Homo sapiens: one gene and its partner. The protein of the gene in region 2 binds, or shares a complex with, the protein of the main gene of each other region. Each region holds a gene or a part of one and is shown on either strand. Other genes may lie near its edges. The genes, in order: GNAI3 and RGS2. A codon is read from its position in the direction of its gene.

What was found.
Region 1: the proteins of RGS2 (region 2) and GNAI3 are in contact, whole or in part, in a crystal structure (PDB 2V4Z), measured with the Homo sapiens proteins. Residues at the interface, in NP_002914.1 of Homo sapiens: Glu104 (codon at 1,023), Phe105 (codon at 1,020), Glu108 (codon at 1,011), Asn109 (codon at 1,008), Glu143 (codon at 906), Ala144 (codon at 903), Pro145 (codon at 900), Glu147 (codon at 894), Ile148 (codon at 637), Asn149 (codon at 634), Asp151 (codon at 628), Phe152 (codon at 625), Leu180 (codon at 541), Asn183 (codon at 532), Ser185 (codon at 526), Arg188 (codon at 517); in NP_006487.1 of Homo sapiens: Val179, Lys180, Thr181, Thr182, Gly183, Ile184, Val185, Gln204, Ser206, Glu207, Lys209, Lys210, His213, Ala235, Glu236, Asp237, Glu238.

Annotation. Positions count from the first base shown.
Region 1 is NC_000001.11:109,589,991-109,602,956, reverse strand, and holds the end of GNAI3 (guanine nucleotide-binding protein G(i) subunit alpha-3), read right to left. Parts: intron 10,915-12,966; coding exon 10,724-10,914; 3' UTR 10,702-10,723; intron 10,613-10,701; 3' UTR 2,762-10,612; downstream 1-2,761. UniProt on the Homo sapiens protein: Heterotrimeric guanine nucleotide-binding proteins (G proteins) function as transducers downstream of G protein-coupled receptors (GPCRs) in numerous signaling cascades.
Region 2 is NC_000001.11:192,805,097-192,812,038, reverse strand, and holds the start of RGS2 (regulator of G-protein signaling 2), read right to left. Parts: upstream 3,001-6,942; 5' UTR 2,968-3,000; coding exon 2,858-2,967; intron 1,874-2,857; coding exon 1,772-1,873; intron 1,670-1,771; coding exon 1,608-1,669; intron 1,059-1,607; coding exon 892-1,058; intron 638-891; coding exon 443-637; 3' UTR 1-442. UniProt on the Homo sapiens protein: Regulates G protein-coupled receptor signaling cascades. Inhibits signal transduction by increasing the GTPase activity of G protein alpha subunits, thereby driving them into their inactive GDP-bound form.

The DNA of each region.
Region 1 (12,966 bases), about 83 Mb from region 2:
CTCACGCTTGTAATCCCAGCACTTTGGGAGGCCAAGGTGGGCAGATCACGAGATCAGGAATTTGAGACCAGCCTGGCCAACACAGTGAAACCCTGTCTCTACCAAAAATACAAAAATTAGCTGGGCATGGTGGCAGGCGCCTGTAATCCCAGCTGCTCGGGAGGCTGAGGCAAGAGAATTGCTTGAACCCGGGAGGCAGAGGTTGTAGTGAGCCAAGATCACGCCACTGCACTCTAACCTGGGCAACAGAACTGTCTCAAAAAAAAAAAAAAAAAAAAAAAAGCCTGCTTGTGCTTAGGGTCACAGAAATAAATCCTATATAAAAATATAAAAGCTGCCATATATTAAATTCAACACCTGGTTTTTAGAATAAACTATTGCAACAAACTATTCCAAGCAAAATAGCAAGGCTTCCTATAGTCTGTAAAAAACTAGTATTAACCAAACCTAAATAAACCTGCCATTCCCTTTTTACTAACAGACCTCTATGTGCCTTAGCTCAGAGATCTGGATCACTGGATAGGAGATGCGAGTTTGTTAGTTTCTAAGGCACATCCCAAAACGATCATCTTTATTAAGCAAACATTATCCCTCTGCCCCCAGGCTATCAAACAGACCTTTATCTCTACAAATGTTTCTTAGCTACATAAGATACTTCCTGAATAAACTTAGAGGACATCAAATACTCTCATTTAGAGTATTAATGAATGTATTGCTGCCGCCTCTCTATCATAGAATTTGGAACAAGTGAACAATTCTAAACTTTTCAACTGCTACGTGTTTCAGAAGAACCAAGACAGGTGAGCTTGTTTTAGGCACTGAAAATCTTTGCAGTTGGGTCCATGTGATGGTGGATGAAAACATCTCCCCAAACACGCCAAGAAGTTTTCCTTTGAACTCCTTTGAGGGGAAATGAAGTTTGCATTTATCTTGACAGAAGGGGATGAAGTTAAGTATATAGATTTAGCATTTACAACTACCAGTGAGGAAAGCTCTTGGCATCCAAGATTTAGTACATAGAAGAAAATGTCAATTAAAATGGAAATTGCTCCTTGCCAGAAACACCCACTCACACTTAGGCTGCTACTAGCAATATTAATACTAGAGAGCCATATGAGCTTGAAATACACTTAAGAATAAATTTGTAGCTATAAAAGTTAAACTCATTTAATAGTCTTTCTGATTCCCTAAAAAGAAAGCAGCTTGGGAGAATTATCCGAGAAACTACTCTGGCTACTGCTGATGAAAAAACTCAAGCCAAAGAACAAACCTGGCTGGGCACGGTGGCTCACACCTGTAATCCTAGCACTTTGGGAGGCCAAGGCAGGTGGATCACCTGAGGTCAGGGGTTTGAGACCAGCCTGGCTAACAGGGCAAAACCCCGTCTCTACTAAAAATACAAAAATTAGCCAGGCGTTGTGGTGCCTGCCTGTAATCCCAGCTATTCAGGAGGCTGAGGCAGGAGAATCACCTGAACCCAGGAGGCGTTTGCAGTGAGCCAAGATCATGCCACTGCACTTCCAGCCTGGGCGACAGTGAGATTCCATCTCAAAACAAAACAAAACAAAACAAAAAACCTGGGAAAGACTTCTCATATTCAAGAGCTGTTCAGGAACTACTCTGAATATCATGCTCCAACCATTACTAATCTGTTCACTTTAACTCAACATACAGGAGTTCTGAATCTGTTTTGTATCATGGATCCTTCCGGCAATCTGATGAAACCATGTGCCTCTTTTCATCATCATATTTTTAAACACGTAAAATTAAATTCAGAGAAATACAAAGAAAACTAGCATATCAAATAGTCTCTCTGTAGACTCGCTGGAGCTCTGAAGCCCCAGGTTAAGAACCCTTACTATACAAGCTATGATCTTGTCTATTCAGGCCCCAAACATAATTTATCCCATTTATTCCATCTCCAAATAGGATAGCCCTACTTTCCCTCAAATAGTACCAGATTGTTGATTATTTTATTAACTTTTCCTTGGTCTTTCAATCTAGGTATAAATTGGTTATTGACCAAACTATAAGTCTAACTCAGGATCCTTGGTTATTAATGTTCACACAGAACCTGCCTTATAGTACTAGTACAGAAGCAGAGCCAGTGGGACAGGTCTTCTGACAGGTCTTAGGTCAGAACACAAGTCTCTAGCAGACTAAAACATGGTTGTATTTAGTCCTCTTCTTTTGGGATAGCTGGGGGATATCCCAACTTTTAACTGGTTTATCAACAAACTCACACAAGCCACCTTGTACAAACATTATGTAAAGTGTTCATCTTGGAGGATAGAGCAACATTCTATAGCTGTTTTTTTACTGAGTTTGGGATCTGCCTATATTCATCTTATGATGTTTTCAAGCTAAAACTCTTCTGGCAAGTCTACATGAAATGCAACAGGGGCCCTTGAGCACCCATTCACCTATTACCTTAGAACACAGTCAGAATAATTTTCTCAAACCCTTGGTCCAGAATGGGCTCTCCCATGATTAAAGGTAAGAGGACTTCACCTCGATGCTCTTGATAGGCTTCCAGAAAAGGCATTCACCCTTACCCTAGCTCAACTGTTTGTCAGGCCCAACGATTGTTCCCAAACCTTACATGTTAGAGCTGCAGAAAAAGTGCATTTGTACTTTTCCTGCACAATTAGCTTATTTTTATCTCATGGACATTTTGATTGTATTCATGAAAAGTTCTTATATAAAACAGCTATAAGAAAGATTAAAATAAAAATTAAGTCATTATCTTTCTTTTGCCTCATTTTAAATTTACACCGTACTGTTGAATTTTTATTTACTTTAAGCCATCAAGTTTTTTTTTTTTTTGTAACCAGATCAGAAACAAATATTTAACCCTATTTTCTGGCATGCAACCTTAATTCTTAAGACTGCTAAAGTTAGAACAAACTTAAAAATAGTCCAGCCCCATCACTAGCAATTTATAGATCAAAAACTGAAGCCCAGGAAGGAAGAGTATCTTCATCAAGATCACAACGCTAGGCAGTAGCAGAACTAGAACTCCAGAACAGGTCTTCTCAATCCAAAGCCTGTGATGATGTCCAGCTACCAACAGAGCACCATACACTATAAAATCAAAGCCAATTTCTTGTTCTTCTAAGCTCCTCCCATTCCCAACCAAATTCTTGGTCATTTTTTCATTATGCCGTCTCTAAATCGTGGACATTTAACAAAACCACCTCCAAGCTAAGACAAATAGATCTCAAAATAGAATATGAAAACAGCATAAAATCACAAAAATATAACTAAGTTTGCTTGTTTGTTGAAGGTAAAATTTCCTCTTCATATTCTTAGAGGGAGAGACCATAATGTACTTCCCTAGCATAGCATGATTAAAGAGACATTACTAACAGTAAATCAAATGTAAATTACGTTACATTTCACATAAATCTGATAGTTTTCCTTTTTTAGACAAAAATACAATATGATTGACACAAAAGGACAAATACTATGATTCCACTTATATGAGGTATCTAAAATAGTCAAATTCATAGAGACAAAGGAAAATGCTGGTTACCAGGGGCTGAAAGAAGGTGGGGCATGGGGAGTTACTGTTTAACAGGTACAGAGTTTCAGTTCAGGAAGATGAAAACAAGTTCTGGAAATGGATGGTGGTGATGGCTGTGCAACAGTGTGAATGTACTTAATGCCACTGAACTGTACACTTAAGATGGCAAATTTTGTTATATATGCTTTATCACAATTTTAAAAATAGAAAAAATATACTATAATTAGAAATTTGTATTTCTGTGGATAAAAGGAAGAATGGATAAAAGCGGCACAAAAGTTGTCTTAAAAGCAACATAAAAGACACATTAACTTGAAACAGTTCCTACTCTGGTAATAAAATCCACTCACATGTACCTCCAAATAGTCCAAAACAGAGTATTCCTTCCCATCCCCACGGTGAGACATAACAGCATTCAAAACCCACTCTATACTTGGAGATGTGCCGTAGACCAAAGTGTGCCGGCCATGCTGGGTGGAGAAGGTGGTGAAGGGTGAAGAGCTCTTACCTCCCACTGCCCTCTCTACCCGGCACAGCCCCCAGAGCACAGATTCCAGAAGGATTTCGGTGTTGGGCCAGGGACTGCAAGTGTGACAGAGCCTCTGGTGGTCCTGCTAGGTAAAAGCATGAAAACATTTCTGTGAGGTCAGAAGACACTGGAGACTGCAGAAGGGAACTTTTCTGTCTTTTTGCCATGAAAAAGCACTAGTATAAGCAGAAAATAGACAGCTGGATTTAAATGTAAAACAAAGCAAAGACCTTTTCACCCTGCTTCACGAATTTTAGAGCAATTTATAGTTCAACTTCATTTCAGGTCTTCAAAATGAATATGGGCAAAGTAATGCTGTAAAAGACCACCCACTACGTTGAATACCTTTGTTGGTGCTGCCTTAGGATTTTTTTTTTTCTGTGCAGTATAATCCTGAGTATCATAACATTTACAAAGCATTTTCAAATATGTTATTTCTATCTGATGAGAACCACAGAATATCACAGCAGGAAGGAATAATTTAGTCCATCTTTAGATAACAGATGAGTGATTTAAGACTGAAAGAATACACAAGATTCCATAGCTGGTTGGAAGCAGAGACAAGACCAGAACCCAGCATTCCAAACAACTCTCCAACCTCGTAAGATTCTGAGAGGTCTCAGGACCTTTATCCTACATGAGCAAGAATAAACAGAACAGGTGATTTCTTGTGTTTTGTTGTATCTACTGGAAATCTCTCTTACATATAAATAAGCATCTTAGTAAAAATGTCTGGATAACCTAAGGAGAATTTTGGGCGTAGGGAGAGGTAAAAGATAAGAGGAGACAGATAAACCAGGTTGTTCATAATTTAATATTCCTGCTGTCACAGATTTTATAGCTTAGTGAATGCTGGTACACTGAGATACTTCTATCCCAGCAGTGTATTAATATTTATTATTTGATTATTTCTGGTACCTTGTGATTCTCACTAGATTTCAGGAAAACACTAGCACTGGGCATACAAAGGCTTTTACATGTGACTCAATCATTCCCCTTATATACCCCCGTACCCATTTCAAAACGACTTTCATTCTAGTTTAGAGCTAGCTAGCTTTGCTTTCTCTACCAAGTGTAAATAAATATTCATGTTATTACATATACTGTTATCTGTCACAGGGTTTTATCTTTAATTTGGTGTATCTTTCAATTTTCACTGCATAAATAAATGCAGTAAAATAAATGAAATGAATGTTTGGACATCCTAGGTTTCTTGTTGTCTTAATTTTGTATAAAACTAAATACTCTGTATCCAAAGTGTAGGAATGTTATGTGACCCAACAGTTTTCAATAATTTTCTTGGTGGAAGGCACTTTAAGTCATGTACAAATGGTACTTCTTATTGGCAAAAAATAGATCACTCACTAGTGATTTTGAGCTTATTTGTGCACTGAAGTTGCTTATTTTCAATATTTGTGTTGACTTTAAAAAAAAACAAAAAAAAAACAGACTCACTCTGTCGCCCAGGCTGGAATTCAGTGGTGCGATCTCGGCTCACTGCAACCTCTGCCTCCCAGGTTCAAGCGATTCTCCTGCCTCAGCCTCCCGAGTAGCTAGGATTACAGGCATCCACCACCATGCCTGGCTAATTTTTGTATTTTTAGTAAAGACGGGGTTTCACCATGTTGGCCAAGCTGGTCTCAAACTCCTGACCTCAAGTGATCTGCTTACCTCGGCCTCCCAAAGTGCTGGGATTACAGACATGAGCCACTGTGCTCAGCCTGTGTTGATCTTTAATATAGATTGAGCATTTCAAATCTGAAAATCCAAAATCTAAAATGCTCCAAAATCAAAAGCTTTTTGGGTAACAACATAACACTCAAAGGAAGCACACACTGGGGCATTTTGGATTTCAGATTTTTGGATTTGGAATCCCGAACCAATAAGTATATAATGCAAATATTTCAAAACCTCACAAAAATCTGAACTCTCAAACACTTCTGGTCCCAAGAGATTTGGATAAGGGCTATTCAACCTGTATTAGGTCCTACTCAGTTGTCCCCAAATGTTGGCCCAGATTGGCTACATCAAAATCACCTAAGGAATGTATTAAAAACATGTATATTCCCATGACCTGGCTCAGACATTTTAATTTACTAGGGTTTAGCCAAAGAATCTGCTAAATCAAATTAACCATGTACCCCAGGTAACTACTGCTGTTTAACATTCCTTCTTACCTCTTATTCCTGAGAAGATTTGAGTCAGCCCAGGCCTAGGCCTGATATGGTATCAGAAAAAAAACTGCCCTGAGTGGGTGGAGTGGTTCACATCTGTAATCTCAGCACTTTGGGAGGCCAAGGCAGGCAAATCACTTGAGGTCAGGAGTTTGAGACCAGCCTGGCTAACATGGTGAAACCCTGTCTCTACTAGAAATACAAAAGTTAGCCAGATGTGGTGGCACATGCCTGTAATCACAGCTACTTGGGAGGCTGAGGCACAAGAATCGCTTGAACCTAAGAGGCAAAGGTTGCAGTGAGCAGAGATCGTGCCACTGTACTCCAGCCTGGGCAACAGAGCAAGACTGTCTCAAAAAAAGAAAAAAGAAAAACAAGAAAAAACTGCCCTATCCTGACATGTTCTGAAGTATGTTGTTCTCAGCAGAACTAACTCATAAATGTTGAGAAAACTGGGGGGAAAGGAGGGAGAGAAATGATCTTAAAAACTAAAAGATAAAGGCATAAAGACCTTGATCATCATTAAAGTTAGTTCTCCAGTGCCTGAAAAAGGCTTTCTTTTACTCCCTGATAGTTGTCAGCAAAATCAACTTTCAACTTGAGGTCTCTAGGAAGCCTGCCTTTTTCTCTTGTGCTTGTTGGGAGCAATACAACAAAATATGATGATCATAAAGCTATGTAAAGAGCTGAGGCTGATCCAGGTCAGATCCCTGATTTGCACTACGAAGCCTAAAGTAGAACACAATAATTACCTGGCACTGGCAAACTAAGATCATTGCTCTTAAAATCAGTATTACACATGAAAAGGAAAGAACCCACAAGTACTAACGCTCAAGGAAAACAGTGACGTTTTAGGTTTATACAAATGAGTAGAGGGTTGCTTATTTTTTTTTTTTTGAACATGTAAAAAGGGAAAATAATCAATGGTAGCTTTTTAATAGGAACAAGAGACTGACTTTACCTTATATATGACTGCAATACAGCAAGGAGTTCTGCAACAGGAAATTCCAGAACTATGTCACACATGCTAAGCAAATGAATAAATTATATTAAGTAACTAATCAGGCCAGGCAAGTAATGTCCAAAGAATGTCACAGCTATAAATGAGAGAATAATGAGCAGAATATAAGAATATAGGGTGAATGAATGAATTACAAAAACCAGCTGTTATTTTAAAATAGTCTAATGTGTATATACAACAAATAGAATATATATGAAAATTAAAAAAACAAGGCAAGAAGTTTTTTTTAAAATTTTGGTCCATCTAGTCTTACATTGTAAGAATGTAGTACCTTGTGAAAAATAACGATCCATCAGTAAAAATTTAAAAAACGATTCACTGTGAACTAGAGATTTAGAATTCAAACTGTCCAAGATGAAAATGTCATCTCAAGATCCACTTATGAGTAATTGTTAAAGTTTTTGGAATTTTCATGCTAGGAGGTGAAATCTGTTGCAAAGCTGAATTTATAAGGTTAGGGGGGACTGTCCATTAAGAATACTTCTTCTTTACACAGAGACTAATGGCTTCTTTGATGGTCCAAAGCATAGGCACCTGAATTCTGAAACATTATCCATCACAAATCTCCAGCATTCTTCAGAGGAAACACACAAGGCAACTTTCAGCTTCTTTGATTACAAATGCCAAAGTTTTTTTTCAGGCTAGTAGATTTAATGTTTCATCCCACATTTTAGCCCTGCTACAAGAAAATATCTTTTATTTCAATACAAACCAGTGATTTGCAAGCCTGGCTGGTAATCAGAATCACCTTTTAAAAATTATAAATTGCCAGCCAGGTGCGGTGGCTCACGCCTGTAATCCCAGCACTTTGGGAGGCTGAGGCAGGCAGATCACGAGGTCAGGGGATCAAGACCATCCTGGCTAACACGGTTAAACCCCGTCTCTACTAAGACATACAAAAAAATTAGCTGGGCGTGGTGGCAGGAACCTGGTAGTCCCAGCAGGAGAATAGCATGAACCCGGGAGGCAGAGCTTGCAATAAGCCGAGATCGCGCCACTGCACTCCAGCCTGGGCGACAGAGCGAGACTCCGTCTCAAAAAAAAAAAAAAAAAAAAAAAATCGATTGCCAGCCCACCAGCCAAAAGTCAATCCCTTAGATGGGTCCAAGTGATTTTTACTTAAGTCATATTAAAAACTACTGACTTAAATTGTCTCCCTGTGTCCTCAAGGAATGTGCATTTAGATAAGTTATTTGGGATGGTGAAATAAGAGTGATCTTCATGTTAACAAACAGAGAGCAAATGTAAATGGTACAGAGGCAGAAAAATGGGGACCTGCTATTTTTCTTTAACAGAAGGGCTAAAAATTTAACATATCAGATAGATATTCAAATGAAAATACAAATTCAAAGTAAAATGAACTTTTTTGGATTATTGGTTATTTTAGATTATCAACAACACCATTTCATTAGTCCACAGTATAGAAAGACTACAGTTGAAAATAATATTCCACCAGGTCTCATTTCCAGGATCCTATATTACAGAATACAATAAGGAAAAGGTATATTCAAAATGAGTAACAACTACCAACCCTGTTTACATTGTGGGCACTGAATCAATCGCCAATTGAAGCTGATAATTTTCTTTCAGATCAAGTTTTCCCACACCTAAAGAAAATTCCATTATATAATACAGTTATACCATCTGTAAGCTATGATTTTCCAAAAAGAATCACAAAAAAAGTTAAAAACTACCAACAAAGGCACTGAACTGCTATGACTTGCTTTTTTTGTTGACCACCAACCTTTTTTTTGTAAACTAGTGAAAAGTCACATCAAAAGATGAAATAGAATCCAATCCAAAAAGATTGGACCCCAAAAGGCACTGCCCAAACTACTGATTTGAAATGCTCAAAATGCATTCTCTTCATTTGTCTTCCCCCAATAGAGCATTCAATATTTAATGACATTTGCTGTACATTATACAAAAGGGTCTGTAGGTTGAAGTGAACGTAACTTTCCACACAAGCAAAATGTAAATCTGCAAAATGAATCATGATCACATATCACTCATATGCAGATATAACATAAAACCTAAGGTTCAACAATACTATTACACCAAAAGACTAGACTTTCAGGAAACCCTTCTACCTAAACCCATTCTCAGACAAAGGCTAAAGCACATTCTGCAAAGGCAAAAGGAAACAGAAGACAGTATTTCCAGAAAAGACTAGTTACAAACAGGAGCAAACCTGGGCTCTTTACTCACCATTTTAATACTGCCGCCAACTATAACAGATTAAAAATGTACACATGACAAAGTGGAAAAAAGTCCCAAAATGCAACAGTTTCAGCAAAAGAACATACTGGCTAAGGATTACTACAGTTAACATCGGTACAGTAAAAACGATGGCAAACAGGGATTTGGCACCACATTTACAAAGTAAAAGCATGCACTGTTAATACACTTTAGATGTTTCTCAACAGAAAAGGCCATGAAGATGGAAAACAAGAGGCACCATGTACAAAACTCCCTATAACTGAGACAAACAAGCAAGAATCAAAGTGGTCAATTTAGTAAATATGTAGCAGCAAAGTCACTGGTTCTGTTTGGAATTTAGCAATTTGCATTTCTGATTGGCAGCTGCCCTGGGTGTGTCTGTATCCAAGAAGCTGACTTTATCATACTACATCAGCAGTAATTTGGTAATCTGCACAAACAAGGTTAACCTTCAACCATAAGCTTAAAGAAAAGAGAGAACTAGAATCTTATTGCAGAACTTTCCAATGTAATTACCATATGGAAACCATAATGGTACTTTGAGCAGGATAATAACATAAATTTCATTTAAAAAGTTGTATTTATAGCCCCAGTAACCGGAAAGAATTATAAGTAATTATGGAAGTATTATATTCTGACCATACCAAGAGTTAAAAACAAAGAGTTCCTACTAAAGAGGAATATTTTCAAGATGATCTGGTCACATCATGTGCATAGTTAAGATTGTTTGTTTTAATAAAGATTCTTTTGCAAATAAAGAAATAAAATTTAGTAAAGTTATTCTTCTCTTGATGAAAAAACCTTAAAAATGAACCACTGGTGGTTTAAGAAGGGGGGAAAAAAAGAGTAAGCTACATATTGAAGTTCTAGAATGCAGCACCTCAACTTCACATCTTCCATAAGCATTTAAGATTAAGAAATCCAAGTGATGTCTTGACGATCGAATCACACTTTATAGTTCTTCCAATTCCAATGTCTGACTTTAGCATCTCATGTCAATTAAAAGTTCCCTAATACAAAATATTGTGCTAAAGAGTGCTAAGATTCTGCATGCTGCTGCCATTCCCTGGTCCCGTTCATGCTTGTAGCTGCCCCATGAGACAGCAAAAGGTGTCTGGTCTCAACACTCCACACTGTAGTAACTAGAAGAGAAGAATATTCTTAATTAGAAAAAGTTTAAAAACCAAGAGACATCACTGTAGCACTATAACTACCTTGTATGAAACTTTACCTTTCACTAACATCCATGCTTCTCAATAAAGTCCACATTCCTTTAAGTTGTTTTTAATGATGACATCTGTAACAGCATCAAAAACAAACTGCACATTCTTCGTGTCTGTGGCACAGGTGAAGTGAGTATAGATCTCCTTGGTATCTTTTCTTCTGTTCAGATCTTCAAACTGGCATTGAATATAGGCAGCTGCCTCTTCATATGTATTGGAACCTAAAACGGACACCCAGTACTCTCAGTTCAAATTGTAACAGCTGCCTGAACTCAACTAAGTCAGACCATTACCATTTACTTATGGAGAGGGAACATAACCCAATTAAATATGAGTAGAATTCTCTATTTCTATAATCATTAGGTGTTTCTATAATTAGGTTCTTCGTGAGAGTGGACTCTCATGGTAACAAAATAAAATCATCAAACACAAAGATTGAGGAAAACATAACGTTAAATTTCTCTTTACCTTTTCATTTAGACTTTTCAGCTAAAAAAATCTAGAAAGTATAAAAGGAAACTAGGAAAGTAGGAAGGTGCATTTCTAGGGAACACAACTGCTTAAAAGGTCTGAGAGAGGCTGTGTTCCTTGGAGTGATCTTGGAATAAAAATTCAACAGGGTAGTGCTTGCTTTGGTAGCACATGTACTAAAATTGGAACAATACAGAGAAGATTAGCACAGTCCCCGCGCAAGGATGACACGCAAATTCGTGAAGCGTTCCATATTTTTTAAAACAACTGGGTCGGATCATGCTAAAAGGAGATAATATTACTCTGCTACAAAGTGTCTCCAACTAGAAAGGATCAATGAAGTGAGAAATTGTTGAGAAGGATACAGTTTGCTTTTAGATGTCCTTTTTCCAATATGAACATTCATTCATAGTGTTTTGATTACCCTTATGTTACTAAAAGATGGCAATAAACGCTATGGGATTGTTTGTATTAAAACAAAAAAAAAAGGAATTCAACAAGGTAAATTGTTCTTTTCAAAATCATTCCACAGTTTTAAAGAGGTTTAGCTTCAAAGCCTTAAGGTAATAATTTAAATAAGGAAAAGCAATACACTTTAAAAGAGTGAATTTTAGGGTTTCCCAATTATATCTCAATGAAGCTATTATTTTTTACAAAAAGAAAGGTGACAGGAACCAAAAGCAAAGCCTGTCTCAACAATATTTGTAATTAATACCCTTAAATCACCTGCTTTTTACACCATCTTGTCTACTTATAGAACCTTTAGAGTAGCCTTAGAAACTGGCTATAAAGCCAGGGAAACGCAACAAAGACAATTCATTATTCCAATAAACTACAGGCTATTTTCAGTAACGTGAAGCATAACAAAAATATCAATAACAAAGATATAAAGAAGACCAGGTAACAAAACGGAGCTTAAGAAAAAAGGAGCTGGGTGCGGTGGCTCACATCTGTAATCCCTGCACTTTGGGGGCCGCAGCAGGTGGATCGCTTGAGGTCAGGAGTTCAACACCAGCCTGGCTAACTTAGTGAAACCACATCTCTACTAAAAATCAAAAAATCATTAGCTAGGCCTGGTGGTGGGCACCTGTAGTAGAGCTGAGGCACAAGAAGCACTTGAATCTGGGAGGTGGAGGTTGCAGTGAGCCGAGATCATGCCACTGCATTTCTGTCTGGGAGACAGAGCAAGACACTGTCTCAAAAAAAAAAAAGGAAAGGAAAAGAATATTAATTAAAATATTTAAAGAACTGAAGGAAAACAGCTTTGTAGGTGCTTGAAGCAGGTTCTTAAAATCTGGAAAACAACCTCTGTAAATTAAAGGAGGCAGATGAGTGAAAAGTGAATTTTGTCTGCTAGGAACAGATAATAATACCTGGCAAATAAGGACCGTAAGAATCTGTACACAGAATGAAGACAATGGAGGATAGGCTTGGAAGTTAACAACAACAAAGAAAATGGAAATGATATTAAAGGCTCTTTGCTTTGTGTGAAGACTCTAAGCTGGGCCTTCAACATTAATGCCAATTATTTTACTTGTCTTACATCTCTCTCCCCCAATCCTAAAACTTGGTTGCTTTCTATAAACTCACCTTATTCTCACCTCCCTCTGTTCTTTACTCTGAACAGGTAACCACATTTCCAACTTCCTTGATAAAACAGAGGCCATGAGGATTAAACTACATCTCAACTTTTTGGCCTACCACCTCACTCAAAATGTTACATATCTGCACTTATTTGTACTTCTGGTCTTAGAGGTGTCTTACTTCTTGCTCAAAAATCAATTGCTCTACCTATACTCTTT
Region 2 (6,942 bases):
CACATAGTAAACACTTCACTGTTACTGAATCCTAAACTAAAACTACTATGTGGTAACATGGATCGATTTAGGGAAAGATGTACAACCAGCTACCTAAGGCCACATAATCCCAGATCTATTGATTTTAAATGCTTTTGGACCAACAGTATTACATTGTCTCTTTCATCATCTTACATTCCTGCTTTTCAGAGTGAGACACCACGTTCAGACCACCTATTCCCTTCTTGCGTTCTGTACACAGTGAGGGAAGCTGTTCTGATACCAGCTTCTCCTAGTCAGTTACTGGCTTCCTGATTCACTACCCAACTTTGAATCAATAGTTCTGAGTGATGTTTCCTGAACACCCAGGCTGAATTCAAGGTCAGTCTTTATGGCAGGTCACAGTCCTTCCCCTCAGGAAAAAGAATGAAATGTCCTCCATTTCTGGGCTCCCTTTTACATTTCATGTAGCATGAGGCTCTGTGGTGATTTGTGGCTTTTTACACAAGTCCTGGTAGAATTCTGACTCCAAGAAACGAGGATAAGAGTTGTTCTCCATCAAGCTGTATACCCTTTTCTGGGCAGTTGTAAAGCAGCCACTTGTAGCTTCTTGTATATTCTGGGCAATCAGAGTTTTGGTTTGAAAATCTATGTTTATCTGAAATAAAACAAAAAAGTTGTTTATTTGGTATTCAGAGTTAAAGATTAAAATTTAGTATTTGAAAACAAAAAATAAAAATTATGTGTGATTAGCTTTACTAGCTAAGTCACAGGAGAACTTTAACATAACTGAAAGCTACAACGTGGAGGGACTTTTTACCCCTCCTAGCCCGCTTTGTCCTTGATTACTTTGTTTCACTTTTGTGCTAAAGATGTCCAGATTGTGCTGAAATTAGGAACTTGTTTCCTTACCTCTTTTGGAGCTTCCTTTTCTATGAAGTCAGTATATATTTTCCTTGCTTTTGAGGACAGCTTTTGGGGTGATTTGGTTTTTTTGAAGTCTTCACAGGCCAGCCAGAATTCAATATTTTCTTCACAGAATTCCGACTTTAAAAAAGCCCTGAATGCAGCAAGACCATCTGAAGGGGGGAGAAAAGAGAGCATGCAGAATGTGAAGAACTGAGAGACCAAATGATTCCTTATGTTTCTCCTATCCCTCACATTTTAATTATTTCTAAATGAATTTTCTAGATTTCGCTCAAACCTGTAATTCTCAAAATTTAGCTTTTTAAAGACTAAGATACCAGTAGGCAAAAGGCTTATGTTGGCACTCTGCTGCAAAAATATAAGTACTTTGCTGTCAATGCAAAGTAAATATTTATAGGGGAGCCATAAATTCTCTGGGAACTAAGCCTCTTGAAAACATTGTATGCAATGGAAAAACTGACTCAACCTTAACTATAAGCAACTGCCACTTTAATTTGTTTAGGCTGATTTTCTTCCCCACCTGGAGAGAATATATGCATTTATTTGTTAAACCCTGGGAAATAAAGGAAAGAAAAACAGGCTTTATCCTATAGTGACTGCAGTCTAATCCCCCTCAGGCAAGCTGCTCTTTTGTTAGGTGGACGCAGCCTTTCCAGGCTTTTGCGATGTTAGCAATGGCTCAAGCTCAAGAGTTAACTTACATTTGCTGGCTAGCAGCTCGTCAAATGCTTCTGACCACAGCTGTGCTTCCTCAGGAGAAGGCCTGCAAGAGAGGTTCTGTATGTTAGCTTACGCACATCAGAGTTCCCCTTTTCAGTTCAGCAGCTAACTATTGATATTTGCAAGCACAGGATTCTCAACTTACTTGATGAAAGCTTGCTGTTTGCTTTTTTTGCCGGTTTTGGGCTTCCCAGGAGTAGAGGAATTTTGTAAGAAGTAGCTCAAACGGGTCTTCCAATCTTTTAAACTAAAACAAAAAATTAAAAAGATAATTACTAACTAGCAACACTTGAATATGCTACTGCAGCTGAACGCATTTTTACCAAATAAAGTCACCCAGTAACTAGAGACAAACCGCATAAGGCAAAGCAAGAACTCTTCAAATAAGTCTTATCCACCTAACATTTAAACCTCATGTACTGAGCAGTTTCGTCCATTAATCTGACCGTATCTACTAGTTTTACAACTAAGGGCAGGGCTACCTATAATCACTAGGGTATTTTAAAGAATTGTTAATGAATTTAGTTCAAAAGGCAGACACTATTTCTGGCTCACAAAGGGCATCAGTTTGTTTGCAAGGTTAATTACAATTCCGAGACGTTTTGCACTTTAATGAAAAGGACAGACATGGAACTGTCTGGAGCCGGCCCACGCTTCTCTCTTTAGAGCAGGAGGTTCTGGACCACGCCAGAGACTGTACAAAGAGGTGGGTGACTGATTCCCCTGCGCTCTTCCTTCCCCACCTACGACACTTCTTTTAAGCAGACGCTGCATAACAATTATTTGTTCCACATTCGGACTGGGTGAGATCTGCTCTATAATTAAAAAACAAAAATGGATTTTAAACGAGTATATTCAGAACCAGCAAGAGCATCACCTTCCAGTAGCTGTGTAAGCTGATGAGAACTCATCATGCAACGTATGAATGCTGGGGACGCGCTTCAGCCGCAGGATTCTGATGTCATTTTGAATGCAGGAGGACAAAAAGCCAACCCGCAATTTCTTAGCGCATCAACCACCGCCCTCATATCAACTGTCTCCCTCGGTTCTTAAACTGTACCCGAGCATCACCCAGATTTAACCTTACTTAACAAATTGACCTTTTCGATTTTTTTTCCCTGCATAGGCTCAGGCTAGTTTCCTAACGTCAAAGGCGAGCCCGAAAGTACCGCGTTTGCAGCTTGCAGTGTGGGGCAGGGGGTGGCGGGAGAGGGAAGAAAGCCATACTCACAGGGTCCGTTTCATCTTTTCTCGCTTCTCCTCGCTCTTGTGGCCACTGCCTGCGCTCTTGTCCATGGGTCTGCAGTCGTGTTGAACAGCCAAGAACATAGCACTTTGCATTATCGTTCTCCCGCTGGAGCCCCGGCTGTTTGCGGCTGGGCGTGCGTCGCAGCATTTATGAGGCCTCGGCTTGGGGGCGGGGCCTCGCGGCTCCGGCCCCGCCTCAAGAGGACGCGGATTGGTCGGCTGCAGACTGGCACGGGGATGGGTCAGCGCCCGCCGGCGGCAGTCACGGCTGCTGCCGAAGGGTCTCGAAGCCGGGGCGCTGCTGACGTCTGCGGCCCCGGCTTCTTGCGCACTCGGGCCACATAGCAGCGGCCAGCTGGGGCAGGTGTGGGAGCAGATGGAGAGTCTTCAGTGTGGGCCGCTGCGCACGACCTTTTGCTGAAGCGTGGCGGCCGGGCGGGCTCGAGGGCTTTGCGACGGAGGGAGGGAGCCGAAGTTGGCGGCGGCCCGGCGGGGGCGCCGGCGCTCCCTCACCCACCCTGACGGGCTCCCCAGCCCGAGGCCAGAGCGGCGATTCCCTGGCAGGAGGAGGTCGCCCGCCACGAGGCCGGAGTGCAGTGGCCTGATTTCGAATGAAGAGTGGGATTTTTCTTCCTTTTTTGAGCGCGTTCCCTGACCCCGCGCCTCATTTCTTGTTTGCTGTCCTGCTGTAGGACTCATTCGACACCCCCTGGTCTGTGAACTGAGGCAATGGGGAGACCCTCGCCCGTTTCTCTCTGCCACTTAACTTAAGGAAGGAGTAACCTGAAACGTTGATTGCCCAGGGGCAGGGTGGGATCTGCTCTGCAGCTTGCTGGGGCGTCTTGGAACACTTTGAGAATGAACATTAGGGATTGAACAAGAGAAAGTGACTTTATCAGAAGACAGTGCTTTAATTGGGTTTGCATTTTTGATCACTACTAGGCACGTGGCTGGGTCTGTCTATAGGGTCATTCCTCAGGAGTCCTTGGTCACATCTCCTGCCAAAATAGAAATCACAGATTTCCTTATGGTGGGAGAGAAAGCTGCAGACATAGAGATTTCATAGCTGTAATGCACCAGAATCAGTGAGTTCAAGGAGTCAGGATTTCCTCATGAGTCATTCTTGTTGAGTTAGGATTTACCAGAACATTTAATAACTGGCAAAAAGTAGGGGGGAGAATGAGTTAACAGTTTCCTTGATTAAGTTTTATTTGTTAATTCTTCAAGTATCATCTCTACTCCTGAAGGTTTTAAAACGACTTGATTGGTAAAGACAAATAGATTACCTCAACCACAAAATGAGTTGATTTCGGATAATATTACCAGAACTAGCCAGTGAAATGTTTAAGCGGCTTTGCAACCAAGCTGCAGATATTCTCTCTACTTTGTATTCGACTTCTTAAAAGGAAATTGGAAATAATTAATATATTCTTACGGTGAGCTGCCAGTAGTTGGAGCTCCAAGTTTGACTTGGAGGGCAAAACCTGCAGTTATTATTTAAGACAACAGTTGTGGACTTTATTGTGGAAAGGAAAATCGTGTAGATTTCAGTAATAGATACTTTGAAACATGCTTGTTAACTCTAGGAATGCCATTTTTTCTTAAGCATATGCTCTTCCTCTCCTATGCTTTGCATAATAGTCCTACATCTATTTTCACTTTCTGATGACTCAATACGTATTTATCAGCTGTCTGTAATACGCAGACACTTGCTTTTTCTCACCACTGTAAACCTCAATATATTTTATACTTAGAACCTTAGATGTTAGAATTTACTCATAGACAGTTAAATTCGCTGGCAGGCCAGGAGTTCTGACAAAGAGGCAGCAGAGAGAGAGAGCTGGACTTCTGTCAGGAGACCCAGTTAGAGCCTGGGCTTATCCAGTAAATGCTAAGTAACTGTTGGGACACTAGCTTCACACCTCTTTGAGTCCCAGTTTCTCATCTGTAATAAGAGTAACATGTATTTTCTTGCCAGCCTCATAGGATATTATGTGACTCTTACATGAAAGGTCTTTTCTAAGCTCTAAAGTACTGTACGGAAGTTTATTACTGATTTGCATATGTGTGGCAAAAGGAAATGTTCAAATCATAGCTGTTCAAGATGGAAAAAATCGTACGAGGATTAACTCAGACGTAATTAGGTTATAAATATGTAGGTACTATTAAATATCAAGATGTTTCAATTTGTAGGTACACAAATACACAAGATACACAAATTTGTAGAAGATTAAGCTCATTATAGATATTTAATAAATGCTCACTGGATAATACGTAGGAAAAATAAGGAAACTGATTAACATTTAAACTTTTCAGGCTGGGTATTGTGGTTCATGCTGGAAATCCCAGCACTTTGGGAGGCTGAGGCAGGTGGAAGGCTTGAGCTCAGAAGTTCGAGGTTCAAGCATTCAAGTTACAGTGAGCTATGATTGTGCCATTGCACTCCAACCTGAGTGATAGAGTGAGACCCTGTCTCTTAAAATAATAATAATAATTAATTACACTTTTCAGATATCTCCAAGCCAAGGAAGTTTAATCATCTCAATATATTAATGAAAGTGAATATACATGTACCTGCATAAGCAACTGGTTTAAATATAGATTATTCTTGATGTTTTTGTGTTTAATATAATTCTTTGCTTTTTTCATAAACCCTTCCAGATCAGTGACTGATGTTAGGTGGCAGAAAATTAATTTTTCTCTGAAAATTATGTGGTTGGTTAATAAATCTGGATATAAATCAACTTGTAATTTTTGTATCTATATGTAATTTTAAGAGTTAAGGCAGTACCTGCTATAGAAACCTTTTCCTCAAAAACTTGCCATGTTAATGTCTTTTAAAAGACAGGCCAATATATGTATATTTACATATACATGTAATATATGTGACATGAATATATACATCATATATTTCACGCATATATGTAATATGTATTACATGTATATTTACATATGCATTACATATATTTACGTATATATAGGTAAAACAAAAGCTGGAATCTTTGATGACTTCCCTTTTTGTTGTTGCAACTGGCTTTTAGGTAAACAGAATTGCTCCACATAAAGATGACACATATTTTCCATCCTGTGGTAGAGGAAGAAACAATGCAGTGGGTTGTAAAAGTTGCACAACAAAACCTCAGTTTGAGAGTGGCTGATAACCTAACCATACATTTTCTGTGTTGAACCTACCATGCCCTCTACTGGAGAGATTGATTGAACAGATTAGTGGTGGAGGTTTTCCAGATAATTTATGAACTTTCTATATTTTTTTAAAAGTTTATAGAAGAAGGCAAAGAAAAAATACAAGTTTCTTGCATAATGTATCTGAGATTCTTGTATTATATATCTTGCGTGTCTTAAATTATGAAGAGTAAAAATTTCCCCTGTCATACTTCTCCCTTCTGCTCCCACTCTATGCTAACCATTATTAATAAAAGTTATTAATTCCTATTCCTATTAACTAAAAATATTTATATAAAATAACTCACCTACTTAAGCTTTAGAAATGTGAAAGCCATTGGATGCTGTGGCTCACGCTTGTAATCACAGCAGTTTGGAAGGCCAAGGAAGGAGGCTTGCTTGGGCCCAGGAGTTCAAGACCAGCTTTGGCAGCATAGCTAGACCCCGTCTGTACAAAAATATATTAAAAAAAAATTACCTACGCATGGTGGCATGCACCTGTAGCCCCGTCTACTCAGTCAGTTGAAGTGGGAGGATTGCTTGAGCCCAGGGACTTTGAGGCTACAGTGAGCCATGATGGTGCCACGGCCCTCTAGCCTGGGTGACAGAGGGAGACCCTGCCTCTTAAAAAAAAAAAATAAATTAAAAATAAAGAAATAAATAAATAAAAATAGGAAATTTAGGAACCAAGATACTTGCTTTTAAAAACACAAAAGTATCATTCTATGTATTATTCTGTGCTTTGCTTTTTTCAGTTAGTAAGATATTTTAGTTTCCAAATTTCTAAGAGCTGTAAACCTATCGTTTACCTTATGAAATGTTAAATAGGTGGGTTAGTTAAAAAAAAAAAAGGAAAAAATCAGGAAGTTACATGCTATATGGTGA